4 linked regions of the Homo sapiens genome follow. The protein of the gene in region 1 interacts with the protein of each later gene in a biochemical or structural test. Each region holds a gene or a part of one and is shown in the gene's direction. Other genes may lie near its edges. The genes, in order: RAB6A, GOLGA1, BICD2 and SYTL5.

Region 1 (5,966 bases):
AGCACATATGCATTTAATTTATGGGTTTACACTGTGTGCTTAATTAAAAGATAAATAATTGAAATAATCAGGCAGTTTCACTGGCTGTTGTACCCAGTGGGTGTATGCCTAAGATTGGGACAATATAAGAAGTATAAACTGTTGTTCCAGTATCTGTTCTCATATGCCTCTCAAAAGTAAACATCTCACCAGGCTTGAGTGCGTTTCTCCTGTTGAAGATAACTTTTCATAGCTTCATACCTCAAACACAAGCCAGCCACTCCCACTGACACTCATTCCAATGATGGAAGAAAAGCCAGCTGTGTTGGACTTGAGGGGTGGTGTATTAATCTCTAACATAGTGCTTTTCTAATGAACGATGAAGGATAATTTTGACTGGACTGAGTTTCACAATATATTATACACTGACTTCAGAACCTAACTCTCCCCCCCACACCCCCGCCAAGAAGAAGTCTTGCTGTGTCGCCCAGGCTGGAATGCAGTGGCGTGATCTTGGCTCACTGCAACCTCCGCCTCCCAGGTTCAAGTGATTCTCCTGCCTCAGTCTCCCAAGTAGCTGGGATTACAGGCATGTGCCACCACACCCAGCTCATTTTTGTATTTTCTGTAGAGACAGGGTTTCACCATGTCCAGGCTGGTCTTGAACTCCTGACCTCGTGATCCACACCCCTTGGCCTCCCAAAGTGCTGGGATTACAGGCGTGAGCCACCGCGTCCAGCCCTGAACCTCACTCTTTATATGAAAGATAGGAATGCTACTATACAGTTTTGTTAAATGAATGATCTGTCCTTTTTCTGCGTTTCTGTAATACTTTATTATTCAAATGACATTTTTGCTGCTTATTTCATAGCTGTTTACTTTTGTCTTATCCCACCAGTTAAAAAAACAGGAATCATGTCTTTATACCTCTTTGTATTTGGTATATTGCTTTTTATATAATACTCGTTTATAGAATGAATAGACATTTTATTTTATTATTTATTTATTTATTTATTTAAAGACAGAGTCTCGCCCTGTTGCCCGGGCTGGAGTGCAGTGGCGTGATCTCAGCTCCCTGCAGCCTCCACTTCCTGAGCTGAAGCAGTCCTCCAGGTTCAGCCTCTCCAGTACCTAGGACTATAGGCGTGTGCCACCACGCCTGGCTAATTTTTGTGTTTTTTTTTGTAGAGACAGAGTTTCACCATGTTGCCCAAGCTGGTCTCAAACTCCTGACCTCAAGTGATCTGCCCACCTCGGGTGGGTCCCAAAGTGCTGGGATTACAGGTGTGAGCCACTGCGCCCAGCATTAGACAGCTCACTGTACAGTGATCATAAACCTCAGTACCCTTTGCTAAATGTTCCCTCTCAGTTATCACTTTTCTCTCTTTCCCACAGCTCTTTCGACGTGTAGCAGCAGCTTTGCCGGGAATGGAAAGCACACAGGACAGAAGCAGAGAAGATAGTATCCTTTTTATTTCATTGGAAATTTTTCATTATTAACACTAGTCTTTAGAGCCCTGCTTGCTTGGCTAAAGAATATTGTGCCATTGCCTTTTACAACCAGGAACTGATGACTTAAAGGCATAGAAATTCATTTGTTTTCTATAGCAAATGAGGTCTGGTTATCCAAGTGCACCCTTTGCAGCCTGCTTCTCGTTGTTAATCAGTGAGAGGTTTTGTGTTTGTTTGCTTGCTTTTAAATGAGCAGGAAACTCTTAGAATCCCTGTGTCCTTGCCTCTTCATTTTGAGTCCCATTGACTCTAGGCTTTTTCCTCATGGAATATCAAATTTTCATTTCTTTTTCTAACACTTGAGCTTTCTACTTGACACAGGCAAGAAATAGAGTGGAGCTTTATTGTAGCCTCTGCTTTCAGAAACAGGACATAATATTAGTTCATTTCCAAGGATTGGGACATCTAATATTAGTTAATTCTAAGGATTTTTAATTTGATGTTTTCAGTGTTTCATATTCACCTTCTAGTGTATTTCCATATGCAGGCATTTTTATTAAGCCATATAGTTTGTAGCACTTTGTATTCAGCTCTTCCCACTTGTAAATGTTATATGTTTTCATAAAAAACATAAAACAGGCCGGGCGCGGTGGCTTATGCCTGTAATCCCAGCACTTTGGGAGGCCAAGGCAGGTGGATCACCTGAGGTCGGGAGTTCAAGACCAGCCTGACCAACATGGAGAAACCTTGTCTCTACTAAAAATAAAAAAATTACCTGGGCGTGATAGTGCACGCCTGTAATCCCAGCTACTAAGGAGGTTGAGGCAGGAGAATTGCTTGAACCCAGGAGGCAGAGGTTGCAGTGAGCCGAGATCACGCCATTGCACTCCAGCCTGGGCAACAGGATCGAAACTCCATTCCCCCCCCAAAAAAAAAAACACAACAACAACATAAAACATAATATGTTTCAAAAACAAAACAACAACAACAACAAAAAATGTTCTATTGAGTTGAAGTATGTCCCCGCGCCCACCGCCGTTTTTTTTTGAGATGGAGTCTCATTCTGTCGCCCAGGCTGGAGTGCAGCAGCGCAATCTCAGCTCACCACAACCTCTGCCTCCTGAATTCAAGTGATTCTCCTGCCTCAGCCTCCCAAGTAGCTGGGAATACAGGCATGAGCCACCATGCCCAGCTAATTTTTATATTTTTAGTAGAGATGGGGTTTCGCCATGTTGGCCAGGCTGGTCTTGAACTCCTGACCTCAGGTGTTCGGCCTGCCTCAACCTCCCAAAGTGTTGGGATTACAGGCATGAGCCACGGCACCCGGCCTGAAGTCCCATTATTTACTAAATGTTTCCTCTGCTGTTGGAACTATCTTGTAGGCTATTTTCAGATTTATATTATAGATGATTCTATGAGGAACATCATCTTCATATCACTTCTTGCCACTGTAGAATAAGTTCCTTAGGATAGATACCCATAAATAGAGCTTGTACCTCATTCTGACCCTTGTTGCATATAGTAGATATAAACAAGTTTATTCCATTTGAGCACCTTATATGGTGAGGCGGCTATGTAGAAAATAGTGAGTGTGTAGGCTCTGAAGACAGATAGGAATATAAGGGCCATCCCAGAAATGCTAGTGTTTGGAAGAATTGAAATTGTACTTTCCCATTTATGGCTTCTTAACTTTTGTTTCAGTGATTGACATAAAACTGGAAAAGCCTCAGGAGCAACCAGTCAGTGAAGGAGGCTGTTCCTGCTAATCTCCCATGTCATCTTCAACCTTCTTCAGAAGCTCACTGCTTTGGCCCCCTTACTCTTTCATTGACTGCAGTGTGAATATTGGCTTGAACCTTTTCCCTTCAGTAATAACGTATTGCAATTCATCATTGCTGCCTGTCTCGTGGAGATGATCTATTAGCTTCACAAGCACAACAAAAGTCAGTGTCTTCATTATTTATATTTTACAAAAAGCCAAAATATTTCAGCATATTCCAGTGATAACTTTAAAAATTAGATACATTTTCTTAACATTTTTTTCTTTTTTAATGTTATGATAATGTACTTCAAAATGATGGAAATCTCAACAGTATGAGTATGGCTTGGTTAACGAGCGGTATGTTCACAGCCTACTTTATCTCTCCTTGCTTTTCTCACCTCTCACTTACCCCCATTCCCTATTACCCTATTCTTACCTAGCCTCCCCCGACTTCCTCAAAACAAACAAGAGATGGCAAAGCAGCAGTTCTACCAAGCCCATTGGAATTATCCTTTAATTTTACAGATACCACTTGCTGTAGGCTACGGACCAAGATGTCCAAAATTATTCTTGAGCACTGATATAAATTACGGTCTTCTTTGAGGTCAAAATTCAGCCATCATGGTAGGCAGTGCTTGAATGAGAAAAGGCTCCTGGTGCATCTTCAAAATGAGTCCTAAAGAACATACTGAGTACTTAGAAGTAGAAGAACATAAGATGTATTTCTGACTAAAACAAATGGCTCTTTCACATGTGCTTTATTAGACTCTGGGAGAGAAAATTAACCAAGTGCTTCAGAACAGGTTTTTAGTATTTAATTCTTCACGGTAAGAAAATGAAGTTCTAATGAACTGTTTCTCCCAAGGTTTTAAAATTGTCAAGAGTTATTCTGTTTGTTTAAAAAATAAGAAACCTCTTTAAGCAATAGATTTTGCTTGGGTTTTCTTTTTTAAAAACATAATACTGTGCAGGCAAGGCACTGTAAAAGTTTTAATTCCTTCCAGAAGAACCAGTGGAAGAATTTAAATTTGGCGCTACGATCAAAACTACTGAATTAGTAGAAATAATGATGTCTAAAGCTTACCAACAAAAGAACCCTCAGCAGAATAACAAAAACTTTGCTCAGGACATTTGAGGTCAAATTGAAGACGGAAACCGGAAACCGTTTTCTTGTAAGCCCCTAGAGGCAGATCAGGTAAAGCATACATAGTAGAGGGAAAGGAGAGAATGGAAATAAAACTCAATATTATGCAGATTTATGCCTTATTTTTTAGCATTTTTTAAGGTTGGGTCTTTCAGGCTGGTTTTGGTTTGTATTAGATCTGTATAGTTTAATTAACTGGTGATTTAGTTTTATATTTAAGCTACAATTAATCTTTTTTCTTTGGTGATATTTATTTCTTTGCCTTTTTTTTTTTTAACAACTTTCAATCTTCAGATGTTTCGTTGAATCTATTTAGAGCTTCACCATGGCAATATGTATTTCCCTTAAAACACTGCAAACAAATATACTAGGAGTGTGCCCTTTTAATCTTTACTAGTTATTGTGAGATTGCTGTGTAAGCTAATAAACACATTTGTAAATACATTGTTTGCAGGACGAAAACTTCTGAGTTACAGCTCAGGAAAAGCCTGCTGAATTTATGTTGTAAGCATTACTTAACACAGTATAAAGATGAAAAGACAACAAAAATATCTTCATACTTCCTCATCCCCTCATTGGAACAAAACCTTAAACTGGGAGAACCTTAGTCCCCTCTCTTTCCTCTTCCTCCTCCACTTCCCACTTATTGTCACCTTGTAATATTCAGAGAGCACTTGGATTATGGATCTGAATAGAGAAATGCTTACAGATAATCATTAGCCCACATACCAGTAACTTATACTTAAAGATGGGATGGAGTTGTAAAGTGCTTTTATAATACAATATAATTGTTAAAGGCAAGGGTTGACTCTTTGTTTTATTTTGACATGGCATGTCCTGAAATAAATATTGATTCAATATGGCAGATGGGTCATATTCTTTATTTGGAAGAAGTTGTGACTTCTGACATGGGTGTGATTGTCTTCCTACACTGTTGCATTTGATTCTTTTTATGTATTTTTAAGAAAGTAACCAGTTATACTGCTTTTAATATTGATTGGTCTTTTTATTTGGCTTGGAGTTCTTCAAAGCATTGAAGTGTGTTCATAGTCCAGGTTTTTTTTTTAATAAACACAATTTTGCTGCCAAAAATATATAAATAAAACACGAAAGAAAACAATTATTGACCTGGTTTCCCATTCCTGCCAAGATGGTGAATTAGCATTTACTTCTCCCTCTCTGGGAAGACCTTTAAAGCAGACATGGACAGAATCCAGAAAAATAACAACAACAAATGTGAGGAACTCCTAGGGAGTCAAAGACTCTTTTTTTGATGGGGGTATTGTTGGGGGGTGGGGGAGAGGGGCTGCAACTTGAAAGATACATCCCCTGGTGGAGGCAGTAATAGGACATATTAAGAAAAGCATCTTAAGTTCTGCTTTTGCGTCCTCACTCCTAACTATACCTTTGCCTTGGGACAGGAGCCAGCAAACTGTGGCCCTCCCACCAAATGCAGCCTGGAACCAGTTTTAAAAATTAAGTTTTATTGGAACTCAGCCATACTTTCCCACTATAATGGCAGAGCTTAATAGCTGCCACAGACCTTATGGCCCTAAAACCCAAAAAACTGTTTACTATCTGGCCCTTTACAGAGAAAAGGGCAACCCCTGCCTTGGGACAACCATAGCT
Region 2 (7,029 bases), on another chromosome or scaffold:
GGAATTGTAGATGACACCTAGGTTTGGTTTGTATAACTCAGAGTTTCTCCACCTCAGCGCTATTGACGTTTGAGGCCGGATGGTTCTCTGTTGTAGAGGTTCTCTGTTGTGGATGGTTCTCTGTTGTGGATGGTTCTCTGTTATAGAGGGTCTCTGTTGTGGAGGGTCTCTGTTGTGGATGGTTCTCTGTTGTGGGTGGGTCTCTGTTGTGGGTGGGTCTCTGTTGTGGAGGGTTCTCTGTTGTGGAGGGTTCTCTGTTGTGGAGGGTTCTCTGTTGTGGAGGGTCTCTGTTGGGGATGGTTCTCTGTTGTGGAGGCTCTCTGTTGTGGAGGTTCTCTGTTGTGGAGGATCTCTGTTGTGGATGGTTCTGTGTTGTGGAGGGTTCTGTGTTGTGGAGGGTTCTCTGTTGTGGAGGGTCTCTGTTGTGGATGGTTCTCTGTCGTGGAGGCTCTCTGTCGTGGAGGCTCCCTGTCGTGGAGGCTCTCTGTCGTGGAGGGTCTCTGTCGTGGGTGGTTCTTTGTTGTGGAGGGTCTCTGTTGTGGATGGTTCTCTGTTGTGGAGGGTCTCTGTTGTGGAGGGTCTCTGTTGTGGAGGGTTCTCTGTTGTGGAGGGTCTCTGTTGTGGAGGGTTCTCTGTTGTGGAGGGTTGTCTGTTGTGGAGGGTTCTCTGTTGTGGAGCGTCTCTGTTGTGGAGAGTCTCTGTTGTGGAGGGTTCTCTGTTGTGGAGAGTCTGTTGTGGAGGGTTCTCTGTTGTGGAGAGTCTCTGTTGTGGATGGTTCTCTGTTGTGGAGGGTTCTCTGTTGTGGAGGGTTCTCTGTTGTGGATGGTTCTCTGTTATGGAGGGTTCTCTGTTGTGGAGGGTTCTCTCTTGTGGATGGTTCTCTGTTGTGGATGGTTCTCTGTTATGGAGGGTCTCTGTTGTGGAGGGTCTCTGTTGTGGAGAGTCTGTTGTGGATGGTTCTCTGTTGTGGAGAGTCTCTGTTGTGGAGGGTCTCTGTTGTGGGTGGTTCTTTGTTGTGGGTGGTTCTCTGTTGTGGATGGTTCTTTGTTGTGGGTGGTTCTCTGTTGTGAATGGTTCTTTGTTGTGGATGGGTCTCTGTTGTGGAGGGTTCTCTGTTGTGGATGGGTCTCTGTTGTGGATGGGTCTCTGTTGTGGAGGGTCTCTGTTGTGGATGGTTCTCTGTTTTGGATGGGTCTCTGTTGTGGAGGTTCTCTGTTGTGGAAGTTCTTTGTTGTATTTGCTGCAAATATGCATGATAAGATGCTTAGGAGCATCTACCCACTAGATGTCAGTAGCAGCCCCACTTAGGACAACCACAGTGTCTCCAGACATTGCCAAATGTCTTGTGGGGGCAAAAGCACTGCTGGCAGAGAACCACTGGGGTAACTGAATGAATAGGGTACGTACCATTCACTGAGATGGGGGTCCTGGGAGGTATGTCAAGAGTGGATTCCATTTTGGGCATGTTGAGCTTCAGAGGCCTACCCAACAGGCATATCTAGTAGTCTGTAGGCTGACAAGTCTGGAAAATTGGAGCAGATTCTGAGTAGACATATAAATTAGGAAGCCTGTGTGCCTATAGTTCCAGCTGCTTGGGAGCCCAGGAGGCGGAGCTTGCAGTGTGCAAGATCGTACCACTGCACTCCAGCCTGGATGACAGAGCAAGAACCTATTTCAAACACACACACACACACACACACACACACACACAAAACTTTAAATTAGGAAACCATCAATCAGCATAGCTCATAGGCAAAATTACAGCCAAATGGCTATCAATGAGTGCAGATAGAAAAGAGGCCAAAATGAAGGCCAGGGCCACACCCACAAGCACAGGCTCAGAACAAAAGGAGGGGCCGACAGAGAAGACGCCAAAGGAGCCGCAGGTAGGGTAGCAGTAAAAGCAGGTGCATGTGGGGCTCTGGAAGTACAGGGCAGAAAGCGCTACAAGAAGGATTGAGTAGTGAACTCTGTGATATGCTGCCAACTGGTCAAGAAAGGAGACAAAGAGCTGACCATTAGATTTGACGAGACTGAGTTTGTTGGCAACGCTGGGAAGAATAGTCACCGTAGAGTCGTAGGGAATATGGTTGACGAGAGCAGGTTAAAATGAGACTAGAGAGATGCTTCCACTTGCAGTAAAGGCAAACTAGGTAATTCAGACCAGCTCACCTGAGGACTCCCAGAAAAACTGGCCAAAATAAGAGAACATCTGCTTGTAGGAGCCTACAGGACTGAGGAATGGCCCATCCTGCCCAGGGACGGGAGTCCAGCATGCAAAGCAGCTTTTGCCGTGGTGGTATCTGCTGATCCTGAAGAGGCTGGAAGTTTATCTAAGTTTTTCATAGTTTCTCAGAGTTAGGGGAATAAAATTTGGAGTTTAAATTTTATTAAAGCTTGGATCCAGCCTGGGAGATCCTGAAAGCTTTGGTTAGGCACACCACAGGACTACACGCTAGGAGTAAGCTTGAACGGGAAGTAACCAGCACCCCATCTGCACCCCGCCCCCAGCTTTGATTGCACTAACTGAAGGACACGGGGTGGCCCAGGAAAAGCCCATTAGCTAATTTTGGATTAAAATGATCCCAGGTTATTAGTGCTCCTGGGTGACTAGAAAAAACAAAATCAAAGATAGGTAAACAAAAATACAAAACAACACAAAAGAAACAGACTCACAAGGGCTCAGATATCATATGCTTACTATGTTTAAGGAGATAAAAGACAAAATTTAAAATTTCAGCAAGATGTGGAATAGTTCTATTATTATAGTTATGATAAAAGACAGCAGTTTTAAAAAAGGAATCAAATAGAACTTTAGACCTGAAAAATAGAATAACTGAAATTAATACAATAAATTACAAAAGGACAGGAGGAAGCTTTCTGGGGGATGGGTATTTTTACTATTTTTATTAGGGTGATGGTTTCATCACAGTTCATCAAGGCATACACCTGTAGTCCCAGCTACTCAGGAGACTGGGGCAGGACGCTCTCTTGAGCCTAGAAGGTCGAGGCTGCAGTGAGCTATCATCACAAACTGGACTGCAGCCTGGGTGATAGAGCAAGAACCCATTTCCAAAAACATAAAAATTTAAATGTAAACATATAGAAAACTCTTATATGTTTACATTTAAGAAATACACTTTCTTTTTTTTTTTTTTTGAGATGGAATTTCTCTCCTGTTGCCCAGGCTGGAGTGCAATGGCGTGATCTCGGCTCACTGCAACCTCCGCCTCCTGGGTTCAAGCGATTCTCCTGCCTTAGCCTCCTGAGTAGCTGGGATCACAGGCATGCACCACCACACTAGGCTAATTTTGTGTTTTCAGTAGAGATGGGGTTTCTCCATGTTGGTCAGGCTGGTCTCGAACTCTCAACCTCAGGTGATCCGTCCACTTTTGCCTCCCAAAGTGCTGGGATTACAGGCGTGAGCCACCATGCCCAGCCTGAAATACACTTTCAAATAACCCATAGGTCAAAGAAAAAAATCACAATGGAAATTTTAAAATATTTTGAAATAAAGTTGGGCACAGTGGCTCACACAGTGAGCTGAGATTGTGCCATTGCACTCCAGCCTGGGTGACAAGAGCAAAACTCTGTCTCAAAAAAATAATTATAATATTTTGAAATAAATGATTTTGTAAATACTGTGGATCAAAATTGGTCAAGTATAACTAAAGCAGTGCATGGAAGGAAATTTCAGTCTCAGTGGCATCTCTTAGGAAGAAAGCCTGAAAATTGAGCCATGTATGCATCTCAAAAAGTCAGAAGAAGGCACAAATCAAACTCAAGGAAGAAATAACAAATATAAGCACAGAAATTAATGAAATAGAAAATAAAATGGGCCCGGCGTGGTGGCTCACCCCTGTAATCCCAGCACTTTGGGAGGCCAAAGCGGATGGATCACATGAGGTCAGGAATTCAAGACCAGCCTGACCAACATGGTGAAAGTCCATCTCTACTAAAAATACAAAAATTAGCTGGGCATAGTGGCACATGCCTGTAATCCCAGCTACCTGGGAGGCTGAGGCAGGAGAATTGTTTGAACCCGGGAGTCAGAGATTGCAGTGAGCTGAGATCGTGCCATTGCACTCCAGCCTGGGCAACAAAAATGAAACTGTCTCAGGAATGAAGTGAAGAAGGGAGGGAGGGAGGCTGGGCGCAGTGGCTCAAACCAGTAATCCCAGCATTTTGGGAGGCCAAGGCAGGTAGATCACCTAAGGTCAGGAGTTTGAGACCAGCCTGGCCAACATGGCGAAACCCGGTCTCTACTAAAAATACAAAAATTAGCTGGGTGTGGTGGCACATGCCTGTAGTCCCAGCTACTCGGGAGGGGGAGGCAGGAGAATCGTCTGAACCCAGGAGGCAGAGGTTGCAGTGAGCTGAGATTGCGCCATTGCACTCCAGCCTGGGAAACAAGAGAGAAGCTCCATCTCAAAAAAGAAAAAAAAAAACAAAAGAATGGGACCCTCTCATAGTAGCGAGGACTGCTGAAGCCTGAGGTGGATTATTTGAAGGTGAATAAAATCGCTAAGCTCTGGGTGAGACAGATCAAGGCCATATTTAGTTTAACAGTCTACTTGTTCCATCAGCTACTAAGAAGGGTGTGCTCAGTCTTCCACTACGATGGTAGATTTGTCTCTTTCTTCCTTTAGTTCTGTCTGTCTTTGCTTCATGTATTTTGAAGTGCTGCTATTAGGTGCACATACATTTAGAATTGTTTTTCTCCATCCACGCTCTTCAAAGCAGCTGTTCCCTAAGCCCATCCTGGAGAATCATCGCAGAGGCAGCCGTGCATGGGTGGCCTGGTGGCTTCTGCAAGCTGCAGGCCCTGCTTTGTGCCACAGTGAACCTGAGCAGGCACTGTCAACCCCACCTCCCACAGTGCTGGATCTTAGGTGGCTCTGAGGCGCTAGGGCAGACTTTGGAGCCACAGAGACTCAGTTCTGTCTTGTCAGCCTAGCCCCTCACTAGCTGATGCTTGAAGGAATCCATTTTCCTGCAGCCTTGACCTCCCGGACACAAGCAATCCTCTCGCCTCGGCCTCCTGAGTAGCTGGCACTACAGGCATGTGACACCATGCTCGGCTAATTTTTCTTATTGTTTATAGAGACAGATCCTCACTGTGTTACCCAGGATGGCCTTGAACTCCTGGGTTCAAGCGATCCTCCCACCTCAGCCTCCTGAAGTGCTGGGATTATTGGTGTGAGCCACCGTCCCTGGTCATTACTTCTTCTTCTTTCCATAACCAATTGTTCCAGTCCCCCACTCCATTCACGTGGCCTGCGAGTCTGACTTCTTGTTCTTGGCTACTGTCCTTAGACCAGCTCTTCAGGATAGGCCCCTAGCCTTGGTGTGGGTCCTGGCGGGGGTGCTCGTGGGGCAATCGATCCTCAGTGGTGTGCCATTTCCAGAGAAGTCGGTGGGTTGCCTGCCAGGATAGCTCTGAGAGGGATACTGAGGGCATGGCAGGGAGGGGCCAGGCTGGGAGCCTGGGAAGTGGGGAGCATGTTGGTCTGGCTCTGCAAAGCCATGCCCTGTCTGCTGGGCTTCTTGCGTGGCATACAGCTAAAAAACTGTGAACTAAGTTTTGGGGCTCAGTGGTTTTCTGCATTGTAGGAAGAATGGAGCCAAAGAGAAATTGTGAGCGTGGCCATGGCTCAAGCCCTGGAGGAGGTGCGGAAGCAAAGGGAAGAGTTCCAGCAACAGGTGGGCCCTGTTTCACGCTGAGGGGCGATGTCCCCCTGCAGTCCCACAGGCAGCAGGCCCATCCTGCCGTGAGACTGTTGGAGAGGGCCTGTCTCTCCAGGGTAGGGTAGTAGACTCAGGACTCAGGGAATGCAGTCAGCTGCGTGGGCCCCTGTGCTCTCTAGGAAGCTGGGAGACAAATGTTATAAAGAAACTCTTACCCCATAGGATGCCCTTTTCTGATTTTTCAACTATAATTACCTGGAAAGTGGTCCATGTCCACGGGCCTAGTGGGCTCTAATTCTGTGAGGTGACCTATCATTGCCCACCTGCCCCAGAGGCCACGTAAGGTTGGGTTGAGTTTTTGCAGGAAGTATGGGAAAGCCTCCCTTGAAGGTAGACTTTGCATCTGACCCCAGAGCTTCTAGTTAAGTGGCTTTAGGCCTTTGGTAAGTCCTTAACAAATCTGAGTCTCCTCTGATGAGGACTCTAGCCTTCTACTTACACCTCTGGGAAACTATTCTGTAATGAGGCAACATATATCAAATGCGTGTCTAGTGCTGGGGATGTTGCAGGCACTCAGGAAATGGAAGTTATGACAGCTTGTTGGGCTGGGCAGAATGGCCACGTCTCTGGTTGACCCACTGTTGGCCAGGGGGCAGTGGGAGGCGACTGCCCCTGTGCAGGGCCCCTACCAAGGAGAATAGATTTGTGCATGTTCATAGGAGCAGAGCTTAGCTGGGGGTTTGCTCTGGGTCGTGGACTTCAGGGAGGGATTCGTGGTGTACCCTGGAGAGCGGGGAAGTGGAGATTTCTGTGGGAAGATGGAGTCACTGCTCACAACCTTCCCTCTTGTTGATTTTTCTCTCCAAGGCAGCTAACCTGACAGCCATAATAGACGAGAAGGAACAGAATCTGCGGGAAAAAACCGAAGTGCTTCTCCAGAAAGAGCAGGAGATTCTCCAGCTGGAGCGAGGTGAGGAGTCGGTCCCTGGCTGAGCCTTCTCTCCTTTTCAGGCCCAGCATCCTGCCTTGTGACGGCCTTGCCACCAAGCAGCATGGAGTCACTGGGCTCACAGTGCCCCCTCCCCTCCTCCCCGACCTAGGTCACAACTCTGCCCTGCTGCAGATACACCAGCTGCAGGCCGAGCTGGAGGCCCTGAGGACCCTCAAGGCGGAGGAGGCTGCAGTGGTCGCGGAGCAGGAGGACCTGCTGAGGCTGCGGGGCCCATTGCAGGCCGAAGCACTCTCAGTCAATGAGTCGCACGTAAGTCCCAGCTGCACCTGCATGGGTGCTACAGCAAGATGCAGGGCAGGTGCCGAGAGTGCCCCTAAGGAGGCAGCAGT
Region 3 (7,029 bases), on another chromosome or scaffold:
TGGGGAAAGAGCCTGCGTTGAGGGTGACCACCATTACTGGTGACGGTTAGTGTTCTGAGGGCCCAGCATGAATTCCATTCTTTCCACACCCTGTGTGTCTTTGTCCACCTCACTGACAGCATGGCCAAGGAACCTGGGGCTGACAGCCTGCCCTGACATGGGGTGGGATGTCACTAGGCCATCTTGGGGGTCCTCCAAGCTCTCGGGGTCCATAGCAACTGACATGGTGTCCTGCTGCCTGTGCCTTTGCAGATGGAGCGGGAAAAGGCGGGCCTGCTGGCAACGCTGCAGGACACACAGAAGCAGCTGGAGCACACGCGGGGCTCCCTGTCAGAACAGCAGGAGAAGGTGACCCGCCTCACAGAGAATCTGAGTGCCCTGCGGCGCCTGCAGGCCAGCAAGGAGCGGCAGACAGCCCTGGACAACGAGAAGGACCGTGACAGCCATGAGGATGGGGACTACTACGAGGTGGACATCAACGGGCCTGAGATCTTGGCCTGCAAGTACCATGTGGCTGTGGCTGAGGCTGGCGAGCTCCGCGAGCAGCTCAAGGCACTGCGCAGCACGCACGAGGCTCGTGAGGCCCAGCACGCCGAGGAGAAGGGCCGCTATGAGGCTGAGGGCCAGGCACTCACGGAGAAGGTCTCCCTGCTAGAGAAGGCCAGCCGCCAGGACCGCGAGCTGCTGGCCCGGCTGGAGAAGGAGCTAAAGAAGGTGAGCGACGTCGCCGGCGAGACACAGGGCAGCCTGAGTGTGGCCCAGGATGAGCTGGTGACCTTCAGTGAGGAGCTGGCCAATCTCTACCACCACGTGTGCATGTGCAACAATGAGACACCCAACCGTGTCATGCTGGACTACTACCGCGAGGGCCAGGGCGGGGCCGGCCGCACCAGTCCCGGGGGCCGCACCAGCCCCGAGGCGCGTGGCCGGCGCTCACCCATCCTCCTACCCAAGGGGCTGCTGGCTCCTGAGGCGGGCCGAGCAGATGGTGGGACGGGGGACAGCAGCCCCTCGCCTGGCTCCTCACTGCCATCACCCCTGAGTGACCCACGCCGGGAGCCCATGAACATCTACAACCTGATCGCTATCATCCGTGACCAGATCAAGCACCTGCAGGCAGCCGTGGACCGCACCACGGAGCTGTCACGCCAGCGCATTGCCTCTCAGGAGCTGGGCCCCGCCGTGGACAAGGACAAGGAAGCGCTTATGGAGGAGATCCTCAAGCTGAAGTCGCTGCTCAGCACCAAGCGGGAGCAGATCACCACGCTGCGCACTGTGCTCAAGGCCAACAAGCAGGTGAGGTGCCAGGCAGCAGGGGCACATGTCACCTACTACTGGCCTAAGGGTGTTTCCCCCTTGGCCTCCTTCCTCCCCCTGCCACGGGGCCCCCCCAGGCCTGCGTCACCACCAGACAGAGCCAGCCCCATAGTAGCTCGACTGCCTACCCTCCCCTGCTCAGGGCCCCCAGCTGGGAGGGTGGAGCAGGCAGGTGGGTGTGAGGGCCCCTCAGCAGAGCTGCTCAGCCAGTGAGAAATGCCGCTGCCCTTGACTCACTGTGACTGCCTCGTAGTGCTTCCTGATACTGGAGGGAAAACATGTGAGAGCCATAGTCTGAGCTGTGGAGAGCAATTGTGGGGCTTCGTGGAGGTCCTGTTGGCAGGTTTAGGGGCAGTCCCTCCTCTGCCAGTCAGAATCAGCAGGTGGGACTCCCCATGGCGTAGCTGCTGGAGTCCATCCCCAGGGTTTGTCACAGGGAGGGGCCTCCCAGGAGCTTTCTTCCCAGGCACTGCCACCACTTCAGACCGGGGCTCCCGATCCTGCTCCCAGAGCACCTCTAGGCTGACTTCACGCCTTTCACTTTTCCACCCTACACATCTGTCCCCCAGACGGCCGAGGTGGCCCTTGCCAACCTGAAGAGCAAGTATGAGAATGAGAAGGCCATGGTTACCGAGACCATGATGAAGCTGCGCAATGAGCTCAAGGCCCTCAAGGAGGACGCAGCCACCTTCTCCTCGCTGCGTGCTATGTTTGCCACCAGGTAACCGTGCTGCTGTCGGGCCCTCCCCTTCCACAAGGCCAGCTGTCCTCAGCACTTGCCTCTGGAACCCTTAGCCTCTCACTGCCTCATGCTGAGGCCTGCAGCCCTGACTAGTCAGTGGCTGTGCCCAGCTCCATCAGGGCCAGCATGGTACGAGGTTGGGGAAGCATGGCCCCTGGCACATCTCTGGCACACTGGTGCTCAAGTTGGTGACAAGAAAGGGTGAGGCGATATGGGGGCCACATGGGGTTGGGGGCCCCTAGCTGCTGCACCTCAGCTTCCTCCGAGGTCACGCAAGCAGTTGCTGGAGCATAGGGCATGCCTGGCAGGTGCCCACATGTGGCCGGGGATAGCAGAGCGTGTGTGATCCTTTTAATGTTCCTTTTGCACCTAGCCCAGCCCCCAGGAGCCTGGTTCTGTGGCGCCGGTTCCATTTTGCTGTGAATGAAACCGCAGCAGGCCCAGGCTTGTCTCTGCTTTGCATATATGGAGACTGAGGGCAGAAGGGCTGAGGAGAGCAGATCCTGGAGTGGATGGGCCAGAGTTGCATAGCTTCAGGGGATGCTTGGGCTCCCACCCCTTGAATCCAACATTTACAGGGACTTAACTTGGGGCCAACAGGTGACAGAGGAGTCCTGGCCTTTCCTCTCATGAGGTATTTGCCCCCAAGAACTTGGCCATATGGCACAAGTGTGTATTTATGTTTGTAGATTCAGAAGGAAGATTATCCTCCTGGCTGGAGCAGGTCACTGCTGGGGTCCACAGTTCGGGTCCCACCTCTGTGCATAGCCCTGTACCTCTGCGTCATTGTGACCGCTGGGTACTCACCTCCCATCCTCTACTTTGCCAATCTGGGGAGGGTGAGGAGAGGGCCGGGGCTTGGAGGAGACCAGCTTTCTTTCTTCCTCTGTGGAGGGCTCTTAGTAATGGGCTCTGAGGTGGGCTGCCCCTGGTGGGTGCACACCCCTCCCTGGCTGGGACTCAGACCCCAAGGCTGGGAATCGAGGCTCCCTAAGTGTTCACAGGCCTCTGTGGGGCAGGTCCTGGTTTCAGCATCTTCCCAGGTGCCCCCTGACAGGTACCGCTGTCTTTCACTTTCCAAAGATGGGTAGCGCCACCTGCTGGGTCATGTTGGGATAGCACCATGGGGTCAGCCCTGCATGGGGGACAGCCAGGCCCACCATGGGCCCAGCAGATAACCTAGATGTTTCCTTTTTATGGGTGAGCAAGCTGAGGATCTGAGCTGGACAGGGTGGGAACTGCATGCACATAGGGCCTGCTTCTCTCAAGCCTGGTGCCGTGCACTCCCAGTTTCTCAGTATCCCTGCAGGACGTGCCAGAGCAGGGTACAGACAAGGAAGAGTCCCAGGATTTCTCTGGAAGCGTCCTGTCTTCCTGGGGCTTGGGGAAAAAATCCCACAGTTTCTCAGTATCTGGCATGTAAACCCTACCTTTTAAAATTTGTTTTATTTAAAAACTTTTCAGATGGAGCCAAGATTTTGAATCTGCAGGGATCACAGCTCTGTGTGCCCTCAAAAGGGTGGGCAGCAGAGTCCTTGGAGAGGGTGCTATCCAAGGGCCGGCTCCTGGCAGGTGGGGACAGGCAGAGTAGGGTGCGTGTGGGCAGGGTGGGGCTGTGCTCAGTGCCTGCACAGCCTCACCGCCCTGGGAGCCCTGGGATTTAACCCGCCCTTTGTCTCTACCAAGCCCCACCCATATGGGACATGTGGAAGAAGGGCATCCAGGGACAGACCACACCCTCCCACAGCTCCGCACCCGGGTTTCAGGATGAAGCTGTTGATGGCGTCCACACACGTGGTTCCTTGGCTCTGGTCAGTGCTCAGCACAGACTGACGAAGCATCGACCTTGGGAACAAGCCCAGTCCTGCTTAGATTTACATCCACACCCTAGAAGCCATGGCTTCTCCATGTCTTGATGCCCCAGGCCACCTCGAGGCCTTTAAGCGGGGAGAGCGCCTCCTAGAAGAAGCCCAGTCGCTGAGGGGCATAGCCTGTTTGTAAGCACTACATGCAGCTGAAAGAGCAAAGCAGCCCCTCCCCCACAAAACCACAAAACTCAAGCCAGCCTCATAGGGCTGCCCTGCCTGGGCCCAAGCCTCCCTCTCACCCTTATCAGGGATTTGTCCAAGCAAAGCCTGTGCTAAAATAAGCCAGAATAATTCTTCCCCAGCCACACCCTCCAGTCCAGAGGCCACATTGAAGGATGGCTCTGGTATAGGGCTGTCAGAGGGCCGTGCAGCTTAGCCCTGCCCTGCCCTGCCCTCCTCTGCTCGGCTCTGCCCGCCCCTCAGTCATGTTTTTGGTACCCACAGGTGTGACGAGTACATTACACAGCTGGATGAGATGCAGCGGCAGCTGGCGGCTGCTGAGGACGAGAAGAAGACGCTGAACTCGCTGCTGCGCATGGCCATCCAGCAGAAGCTGGCGCTGACCCAGCGGCTGGAGCTGCTCGAGCTGGACCATGAGCAGACCCGGCGTGGCCGTGCCAAAGCCGCCCCGAAGACCAAGCCAGCCACACCGAGCGTAAGTCACACCTGTGCCTGTGCCAGCGACAGGGCCGAGGGCACCGGGCTGGCCAACCAGGTGTTCTGCAGCGAGAAGCACAGCATTTACTGTGATTAGGGGCTGTGGGGCGCCGCACGCTGCAGCTAACATCTGCTTCACCTCAACTAACCCAGCAGCAGCGGGACGGCGGTGCTAGGTCAATCTTAACGTGACTAATGCACAGAGGGTAGGAGTCTAGCCGAGGCGCCATGGGGCGTTGCATCAGCAGGACACTTGTGAGAGCTTTGTGTCGCTTCTCACTCCTCAAAGCCCCCTCAGGAGCACCCAGTCCTCAGCTGCTCTCTTAGGTGGGGGTCAGAGGTGGGGATAGAGCTGCACATTCTTGCAGCAGATGTGTGATGAAAGCATCTTCTAAGCCCTGCGCACCCGTGGGGAAACCCAAGGGAGGAGTCCTGGTCCTGCTCCCTCAGCACCCAAAAGGGGCAGAACCTGAGTTGAGACTTGCATGTTCCTCGCATGTGTCTAATGTCAGCACTAGAAAGCAGTTTTAGGAGGTTCCAGCCTGCAGCATAGGTACGACCTCAGAGGATGGCTTTGCACTTGGCATAGTTTCATGGAAAGGAGTACGTTGTAGTTTATGCAGTATCTGACTGCAAATCATATTCAGGAAAGAAGTGCAGAATTTCTTCCCCAAGCCCAGAGAAGAGCAGCCCTGAGCCCCTGTATTCTGCTGGCCAGACACACATGGCACAGACACAGCTGACCATAACCCAGGAATCCAGAGCTCGGTTTCTCATTTCTGAGATCAGGATGCTTGTATAGTGGCCTGTGAGGTGACAGATTGGCAGGGCCCAAGGCCCCAGGTTTTCATTTTTCATGAGAAAAGCTTTCCAAGTGCCTGGCCAGACCTTGGTCCTTAGTGCAGAGCCCGTCCTTTTGTACTTGGGGTGACCCCAGCAGCCAATTATCCGGCCTTCCATAGGGGGTTCAGTCCCAAAGACATGGGGCTTTGAAAACCCTAGCCTGAAGTCTGAGCCACCAAGGGCTTGGCTGGGTTGGACACCCACAGGTGTATCCAGAGCCCAGCCCGGTGCTGGGAAAGCTTTGCATAGGGCCAGGGCCACTTGTCAGGATTCACAGGTAGGAGATGTTTAGGTCTCTTTATTTAGTGCAATCTGGGGGATGGCAACAGAGAAAGAGGAAAGGTAGCTGTAGGGTTCTCCCATTTCCAGAGGCTCCATCCACACCTGCCTTCCCACATTCTGAGCAGAACTTTTCTCAGTACTTTTTTCCCGATCACCCTGTGGGACCAGCTGGACCTGAGGCTGCAGTCTTCTCTCCTGCAGGCTGCTTGCCTTGTCTCTCATGCGGAAGAGGCATTCGAGTTACCTGGTGAGAGACCGTGTTGCCCCCTCCCACAGCTCTCTGCCCTGCGCGTTCTTCCCTTTGGTGCCGAGTATGTTTCGGTCCCCTCCAGACTCCAGGACACGCCCATGTATGTCCCCTGCGTGTTCATCCTGGGCCCAGATCCCCCTGCCCCAGCAAGACTCGCAGTGGGATGGCTGCTGGCATGCCCACCCTGCATGCGCTTTGCCCTCTCCTTGCAAGCCTGGCACATAGCTTCTCTCCATACTCCTAAGGGACTTTGCAGACACCCAAGCCACTGGGACCCCTGCTAACACATGCAGGTCTTCTCTTCTGCCAACTAACGTGCTCGCGCCCTCCCAGCACGTGGAGAGCTTCAATTGTCAGATAAACAGGAAGCGACAGATGACCGCTTTCTAACGCTCTCTTTTCTCCCGTTTTCAGCTGTAGAGTAGCTGCCAGGAGGACTTGGCCACCCGGCCCTGTCACACTGCAGCCCCTTCCCCTTCCCTCTCGTGGCCCACAAGGAGGAAGGAAGGGCAACCTAAAAGCCCACTTAGAAACTTTTTGGATATGCCACTGCAATTCTTTTCAAAATAGCATTCCCCAGGTTTTTAATGGGAGGAAAAAAAGCTTTAATGTTGAGCATGCTGCGAGCTGCTGCGTGGAAAGGCCTCTGTATGGGCCGAAGACCCTTCTTCCCTGGCTGCCAGGCTCGCCAGGAGCCCACTGGAAACGCCCACCACGGGGGCTCCTTGTTACACATGTTCTTTTTTTATCCGATCAACCTGTGCACTTTTGATATTTTGATATTATATTTGCTTCCTTAATTCCTCGCGTAGAGACGGTCTCAGGTGCCGTGGTCTATGCTCGTGGTCCTGTAGCTGTCCGCCTCAGCTCCCACCGTGTTTGTCTGGTGTCAGCACGAGGCAGAGCTGTGTGCTCCATAGCGTGTAGCTTTAGACTCGGAGATGAGTGCTTTGACCCAGCGAGGAGCTCAGCTAAGTGTATCCACGCTGTGGTTCAGCAGCCTTTAGATCATACGGCATTGTGGTTCATGTTTGAAATTACAGATTTTAAATGCCATGTTCATTAAGAAA
Region 4 (7,029 bases), on another chromosome or scaffold:
CTTAGTAATAAGAGAAATGAAAATTAAAATCATGAAGACTGTAAACATCTACTGGATTGGCAAAAATGAAAAAAATATCTAACAATACCATCTGTTTGCAGGCAAGGAAGTGGAGCAAAGGGAACTCTCATATACTACTGGTTAGACTGTAAATTGGTGTAACTACTTCTGAAAATTTGACATTATCTTTAAAATGATATAGATAAGCACGTGGAGATATGTTCACCCCTTGACTTGACAATTCCTCTCACTGGTATATATTCAAGTGTGTGAACATATATACTGTGTTGTGTGTATACTGTGGTGTGTGTATATGCGCCAGGATACATATTCACAGAATATACATATCAGTGTTGGTCACAATAGAAAAAAATCTGAAAATAACCCAAATATTCAGCAACAAGAGAATGGATAAAGTTTTGGATATCATACAATGGAATATTAAATGACAATATAAATGAACAGGCTACAAAAATATGCCACAATTTTGATGAATTTTAAGGCAATATTAAGCAAAAAAAGCAAAACTCAAAGGAATATATAGCATTTAATTACATTTACACAAAGTACAAAAACAGGCAAAACGAAATCATTTTGTTTCAGAGTATACGCTTATGCAGTTAAACTATAAATAAAAGCAAGAATGTGGTTAACCATAAGAGTTAAAATATTAATTATTCCCGAGGGGAGAAGGGGCTTGTGATATGGACAGGATACACAGGGAGCTTCTGCTTCATCATTTGATTTTGTTATTATACTATATATCTATGTTTTATGTACTTTTTAATATGCTGTATCTTATAATAAAGACTTTTTTAAAGCAAGCCCAGAAGTGTACATCATAATCCTGATTTATAAAACTATAGTTAAAAAAATTCCCATGAATGTATACTTATACTCAGATTTGTGTATGTTTTTATATGATTTTTCACATAAACAAGGAGAAAGACATGGAATGTAACATGTGCAGCAGGATGCTAAATATTAATTTCACCTGGTGTGAAAGGAGGGGAAGGAGGAGAGGAGAAGCAAAAAAGAAAAGTGCCCATAATAAAAAGCAGTATGCATGATACAATCTATCTATGTGTATATATGTATGTGTGTGTGTGTATATATGTATGTGTGTGTGTATATATATATGTGATGATATAATCAAAAATATTGAAATTTGATCATTAATATGTTAATGAGAGACCTAAGTTTTTAGTTTCCATTTATCTATATTGCTTGAAATAATTTTACTAGGAAAATACATCACTTAAATAACTAGGCAAAAAAAAAAAAAGCCATTTTATCATGAAGGAGAAAAAGAAATGGGAAAGGAAAAGTAGAATCTGGGATTGGAGATGAGAGTCCAGTATCTAGTTCATCCTAGTGGAGAGATTTTTGAGATATGCTTTACCATCTTGGCAGTGTGTGTGTGTGTGTTTGCACACACACACAAATTTTTTTTAATTTTAAAGTAACGTAAGTACATTGCCCAACATGAATCACCTTAGAGGTAGGAATTGAACCCAGGTCTGTATGATTCCAAATTTCATGTTCTTTCAATAAAGTAAGCACCATTAGAAAGGAGACCTCACTCTCCACCCCCTATCCCTGCCCACTTCTCCGATGGTATAATTCAGATTGACCGGAGAGGAAAAGAGAAAAACCTAGGAATGGAGTGATTTCTAGAAATTTTTTATCTGATTCTCAAATATTTATGAAAGAAAGTGGTTTCTCAAGTGAAAAAACATTCTAGAAAAACAAATCAACCAACCCACTGATTTTTCCCTTTCTTTTTTAGGACTCCTTGGAAGAGACTGAAGAAAGCATTGATGCCTTAGTGTCCTCGCAGTTATCTACAAACACTCACCGTCTGGCAAGTGGCCTATCAACTGTAAGCAGTTCACTAGGACATGTGGAAAGTTTCTTTTCCCTCTTTTTGATTTTCTGTGCATTTCCAAAGGAGATATGAATGTTCTTAGGAAAATGTGTGATAATGAGTTAAAAGTCATTGTAAGATCCTGCTTGCCCTTTGCCCACAGAGTACATTTCAGTCTAATTTGGTGTGGGTTTTTTCTCAGGCTCCTGATTTCTTCCTTCTTCCACAGTCCTCACCCAGGTTTTAAAATCTCCTCACTCCCTAGTTCAGGCTCAGTCAGCTCAAGCCTATAAATTATTTTTCAATTATCTGCTGACACATTTCCCTGACACCATTCTCTAAACTTCCCAGCTGTCCTCCAGACTGCTGCCAGTCATTTATCCTAAAACACATGCCCAATCAGGTCTGTCTTCTACTCAAAACCCATCCATAGCTTCCCACTGCCTACAAAATAAAGTCCTTTCTTACTTTAGTGTTCAAGGCCTTTTTTGAGAGGAAGGCCCTGTGTCCTTGTATCTAACTGTGTGTAAGTCTTTTTCTTGGCTTCTCTGATTTCTGTTGCTCTGATGCTTTTTTTCTTTTGATCTTTGGATGACTTCTCTAAAGAGTTCTCAAGCAGGTTCTGACAGGAAGTGGACCTACCTAAATGTGCCTGATGCTGACTCAGACACTGTGAGTTTTCAACCTTTCCTTTTTGTTCTTTCCAACCATACTTCACAAATTTCATGGTCTGGGAACTATGATTAAGCAATTTGTCCCACATTTATCTTTTTCCGACTTATATACAATTAACCAGAGGTTATCTTCTAAAAGATTGATGAGATGATCAGAAACCAAGTATTCCAATTCATTAAACATTGGAATCTGAACACCACTCAAAAGACACATGCTCTAAAATGATTAACTATCAACAAAACCTTTGAAGTAAACAACTATTTTAAATCACAGCCTTAGCTTGGTTAAGAGCATATAGTTTAGTTAGTAGTAAAATTGCCATAGGTGTCTTAGTTTCTCACAAGCCTCCGTATTTGTGGGTTCCTAAATTTCCTTCTATCCGTAGGGGCCCTCTGCTTACAGAGGATTTTCTTTGAAAATGTGGCTACAGAGATCTAGTATAGACACAAATCAGTGATATAAGGAGGTAATCAGGTATGGTGGGGTAGTCCTCAGACTAGAAACTTGGAGATCTTGCTTTATTTCTTGGCCATACCAACAATTTTTGTGAGCCAGAATTTTCTCATTTGTAACATGAGTAGGTTGGGGTTTATTCTTGAAACCTTTGATACTCAAAGCATTCTCTATGGACCAGCAACATTGCATCTCTCGGAACAGATACCCCAAAACTTTCTCAGTTCAAAAAGCCCCTAATGTCTCAGTAATTCTTTCCTGGCACTCCTACACTAAAAGTAGCACCTGACTAGTCCATTCATTAAGTAGTTAGAACCAAATAATGTAATAAGCAGTGTATCCTAACAACTTACTAGCCATTTGTAAAAAAATGCTACAAGTGAAAGAAATTGAAAGAAAAATAGTATTTTTATTTCATCCTTAAATAGCACCTATTACTTACCACTAATAGGATATGTGTGCCTATTGAGCACTACACAGTTACCAAATCTTGGAATCTGATTGGACATCACTACTTTCATTTCCCATTTCACATTGATTTTTATGCAATACTTGCTTTTTGTTGCAGCAACTGCCAAAAACTCAGCTTCAGACAAATAGGAGTTCATTGAAAAGAATAAAGTGTGGTTTAAAGTTGACACTGTGAATTACTAGTTAGTGGCTTACATGGTGTCTGATAGGTGTTGTTGTGTTTCCCTTGAGAATTTAAAATATTTCTGTGATTCCCCTGTGAGTTTGCTGTGGTGCTCTGTGGTACCTCGATACACAGTTTCGGAACTGCAGGCCTAGGAGTTTGTTAGAACAGCCAAATCTCAGACCTCACCCCAGACTGAGGAGATAAGCGTTTTCAGTTTAAAAAGGTATCTGGGTGCTGCTCAAAGCCACCTGCTAAACATGAAAATTCTGTTGCTTTGTTTTAGGAATAAGAAAGACAGATTAGGTCACTCACTGGCTTTCTTTAAGCTGTAATTTCCAAATAATTATGGAATTATTGGTCTGCTCTTGCCCGTGAAGAAGCTTAGAAGACATGTGACCACATCACCCACATCCTGTTCTTTGGTCAGTCTCTACTTCCAGAAATTGGTGGAACATAATGGCTTTTACCAAAAGCAAATTATGAAAAAGAAGACAGTCTAAGGTCCCTGTGTATTTACCATAGTCTTGACTTCCCAGTGGTTCACAGAAAAGTGGTTTTGAAACTATTGGGTCATCCACGAAAGACCTCCAGGTGGTCTTTTGTGACAGTTACTGAGATACATAGTTTTCATTTCTAGTGCCAAAGGATAATTTTATTACATTTACAGTAGTCACCTTTATCCACAGAGGATACATTCCACCTACCCCAGTGGATGCCTAAAACCTCGCGTAGTACCAAACCCTAGCCAAGAAACACCAAGGTCACATTTTCACTTAAAGAAAGCACTTTTGGCTTCTCTTTGACATATGTAAATTACTACCATCATTACTCTTACACTGTGGAGTCATTATTAAGTAAAATAAGAATGAGTTGAACACAAGCTCTGTGATAGCAGGACAGTCAATCTGATAACTGAGACAGCTAAGTGACTAATGGGCAAGTAGCATCTGCAGTGTGGCTCCTACAGTGTGTCCAACTGGACAAAGGGAGGCTTCACATCCAGGGTGGGATGGAGCAGTATGATGTGAGAGTTCATCATGCTACTTGTGAACCCCAAAACTCTGAGGCATGTCTCAGTTAATTTAGAAAGTTTATTTTGCCACGGTTGAGGACCGGCACCCCTGACACAGCCTCAGGAAGTCCTGCCAACGTGTGCCCAAGGTGCTCAGAGCGCAGTTTTGTTTTATACATTTTAGGGAGACATAAGACATCAATCAACATATGTAAGATGAACACTGGTTGGGTCTGGAAAGGCGTGACAACACGAAGTGGGGAGGGAGCTTCCAGGTCATAGGTAGATAAGAGACAAATGGTTGCATTCTTTTGAGTTTCTGAGTAGCCTCTCCAAAGGAGGCAGTTAGATATGCACTTATCTCAGTGAGCAGGGGGATGACTTTGAGTAGTATGGGAGGCAGGTTTGCTCTAAGAAGTTCCCAGCTTGACTTTTTCCTTTAGCTTTCTGATTTTGGGTGCCCAAGATATTTTCCTTTCACATACTCAAAACAGCATACAATTTAAAACTTATGAATTTTTTGTTTCTGGAGTTTTCCATTTAATATTTTTGAACCGCAGTTGACCATGGGTAGCTGAAACTACAGAAAGTGAAACTGTGGATAAGGGGGACTACTATAAATTAAAAGCTGTCTCATGTCATTAGTGTCTTGTCAAAAGCCTCATTCATTCTGGTAGATTTGGACTTTTTTAAAATTTATTTTCCTGATTGGTTGGTGTGTGATTTTATTGTGTAGTAGTTTATTTTGTGGGCTGCTACTTTATACAGATTTACAAAGCCATGGTCATATACTACTCATGTAGCCACACAGCTAGCTACTCAGTTGAGGGAAATCATGGAAGCTGTGGGTATGTGATGTTCTTCTGATATGTCCTTGTTAAAGCTGTAGTTATGGCTCCCCGGAGACTGATGGGATGCTCCATGTAGGTGTCAAAGAAAGCAGTATGTGGCTCCTGCTAGCACAGAATATGAGATAAGCTACCCTTTGTCCCAATCAATGTATTCTACACCTTATAGTAGATTGAACTTGAGTCTAACAGTGAAAATGGAGAAAGCTGCAGAGATAGACGAGAAGTGAGATTTGAAATGCCTCAATTACCCTGTATTCATTAGTAGAAGTGAGTAAGCAAAGGGTATTCTCTAACCCAAGAAGGAAATGCTTCCCCTCTAAGCAAATTTTCTGCCTTTTTTCCTGATGGTACTAGATCTGCTGTCTTTTCTCCAGCTGGGATTTTATACAACACCAGCCAAACAAGTGACTCTTGTTTTCTTTCCTCACCCTAGACTTCCATGCTCATTATAAAGAACAGGAACTATAATTGAATGAAATGAGTTGATTCTGTGAAGAGATCATTAGAATGACACTAGAAGCCTTTTTCCATCTTGTTTATTCCAGACCAGCCTTAACAGCATGATGAGCGTTTACAGTGAAACGGGAGACTATGGCAACGTGAAAGTCAGTGGTGAAATCCTTCTCCATATCAGCTACTGCTACAAAACTGGTGGGCTGTACATTTTTGTCAAGAATTGCAGAAATCTGGCCATAGGAGATGAAAAGAAACAGAGGACAGATGCGTAAGCACATAGCATGTTCCTCAGACTATTTCAGTCACTGCCTTTTTTGTCTGTATGTGTGTTTCCTTTTCAAAAGAGTCTTAGCATTCTTCTTGATTCAGTCTTCTCAGAGAGTTGATTGTCATGTTCCTCCTATACCACACTTTTAAATATTCTCTGAAGCAAATGTATACTGGTTGTGTCTTTGATTAACTGATTTTTAAAACATAATTCAGGATTGACATATTTGCAATTTACACAGAGGCAGCTCTTTGAAGTAGAATGCTGACATGTTGGCACACCCAGGATGTACAAAAGCATCTTGTCGATTTCTGTTCTGGGAAATCCTCCAGAGAAAATTACCAAACTGTTACCCAATTAAACAACTCAAAAGGGCAATTATGAGGCTCTCAGGATTCTAGAGATCAGCCTGGGAGGGCAGGTATGGACCATAGCACACTGGAGAGAAGCTAGATATAAAGGTGTGTCAGGGGTTCTCAAGACCACTGCCAGGTTCAGTGATTCACTAGGAGGACTTAGGACTCTGCACGCAGTTATAATCAGCAAAGAGGCACATGGGGCAAAGTCCAGGAGAGATCAGGCTCAAGCTTTGCAAGGGTCCTTTCCCAGTGGAGTCACATAGGATGCATTTAATTCCTCTGGCGATGAGTTCTGACAACATCTGTGAAATGTTGTCTGCCAAGGAAGCGTGTTAGAAACTCAGCTGGTCACATACCAAATTTCCAGTCTCTCAGGAGAAAAAGAACCCGTTCAGCATAAGCCATATTGTTTGTACAAACAATTTAGGAACAACGAGCCACTTTTATCAGT

Evidence for each region.
Region 2: the proteins of RAB6A (region 1) and GOLGA1 interact in far-western blotting, tested with the Homo sapiens proteins (one study listed by BioGRID).
Region 3: the proteins of RAB6A (region 1) and BICD2 form a complex in vitro, tested with the Homo sapiens proteins (one study listed by BioGRID).
Region 4: the proteins of RAB6A (region 1) and SYTL5 form a complex in vitro, tested with the Homo sapiens proteins (one study listed by BioGRID).

The regions. Positions count from the first base shown.
Region 1 is NC_000011.10:73,675,129-73,681,094, reverse strand, and holds the end of RAB6A (ras-related protein Rab-6A), read left to right. Parts: intron 1-1,374; coding exon 1,375-1,441; intron 1,442-3,132; coding exon 3,133-3,197; 3' UTR 3,198-5,457; downstream 5,458-5,966. UniProt on the Homo sapiens protein: The small GTPases Rab are key regulators of intracellular membrane trafficking, from the formation of transport vesicles to their fusion with membranes.
Region 2 is NC_000009.12:124,889,063-124,896,091, reverse strand, and holds part of GOLGA1 (golgin subfamily A member 1), read left to right. Parts: intron 1-5,613; coding exon 5,614-5,703; intron 5,704-6,555; coding exon 6,556-6,658; intron 6,659-6,788; coding exon 6,789-6,949; intron 6,950-7,029. UniProt on the Homo sapiens protein: Involved in vesicular trafficking at the Golgi apparatus level. Involved in endosome-to-Golgi trafficking. Mechanistically, captures transport vesicles arriving from endosomes via the protein TBC1D23.
Region 3 is NC_000009.12:92,712,806-92,719,834, reverse strand, and holds part of BICD2 (protein bicaudal D homolog 2), read left to right. Parts: intron 1-252; coding exon 253-1,296; intron 1,297-1,886; coding exon 1,887-2,038; intron 2,039-4,371; coding exon 4,372-4,681; 3' UTR 4,682-6,373; coding exon of another isoform or gene 6,374-6,379; 3' UTR 6,380-7,029. UniProt on the Homo sapiens protein: Acts as an adapter protein linking the dynein motor complex to various cargos and converts dynein from a non-processive to a highly processive motor in the presence of dynactin.
Region 4 is NC_000023.11:38,100,553-38,107,581, forward strand, and holds part of SYTL5 (synaptotagmin-like protein 5), read left to right. Parts: intron 1-1,789; coding exon 1,790-1,882; intron 1,883-2,473; coding exon of another isoform or gene 2,474-2,539; intron 2,540-6,040; coding exon 6,041-6,219; intron 6,220-7,029. UniProt on the Homo sapiens protein: May act as Rab effector protein and play a role in vesicle trafficking. Binds phospholipids.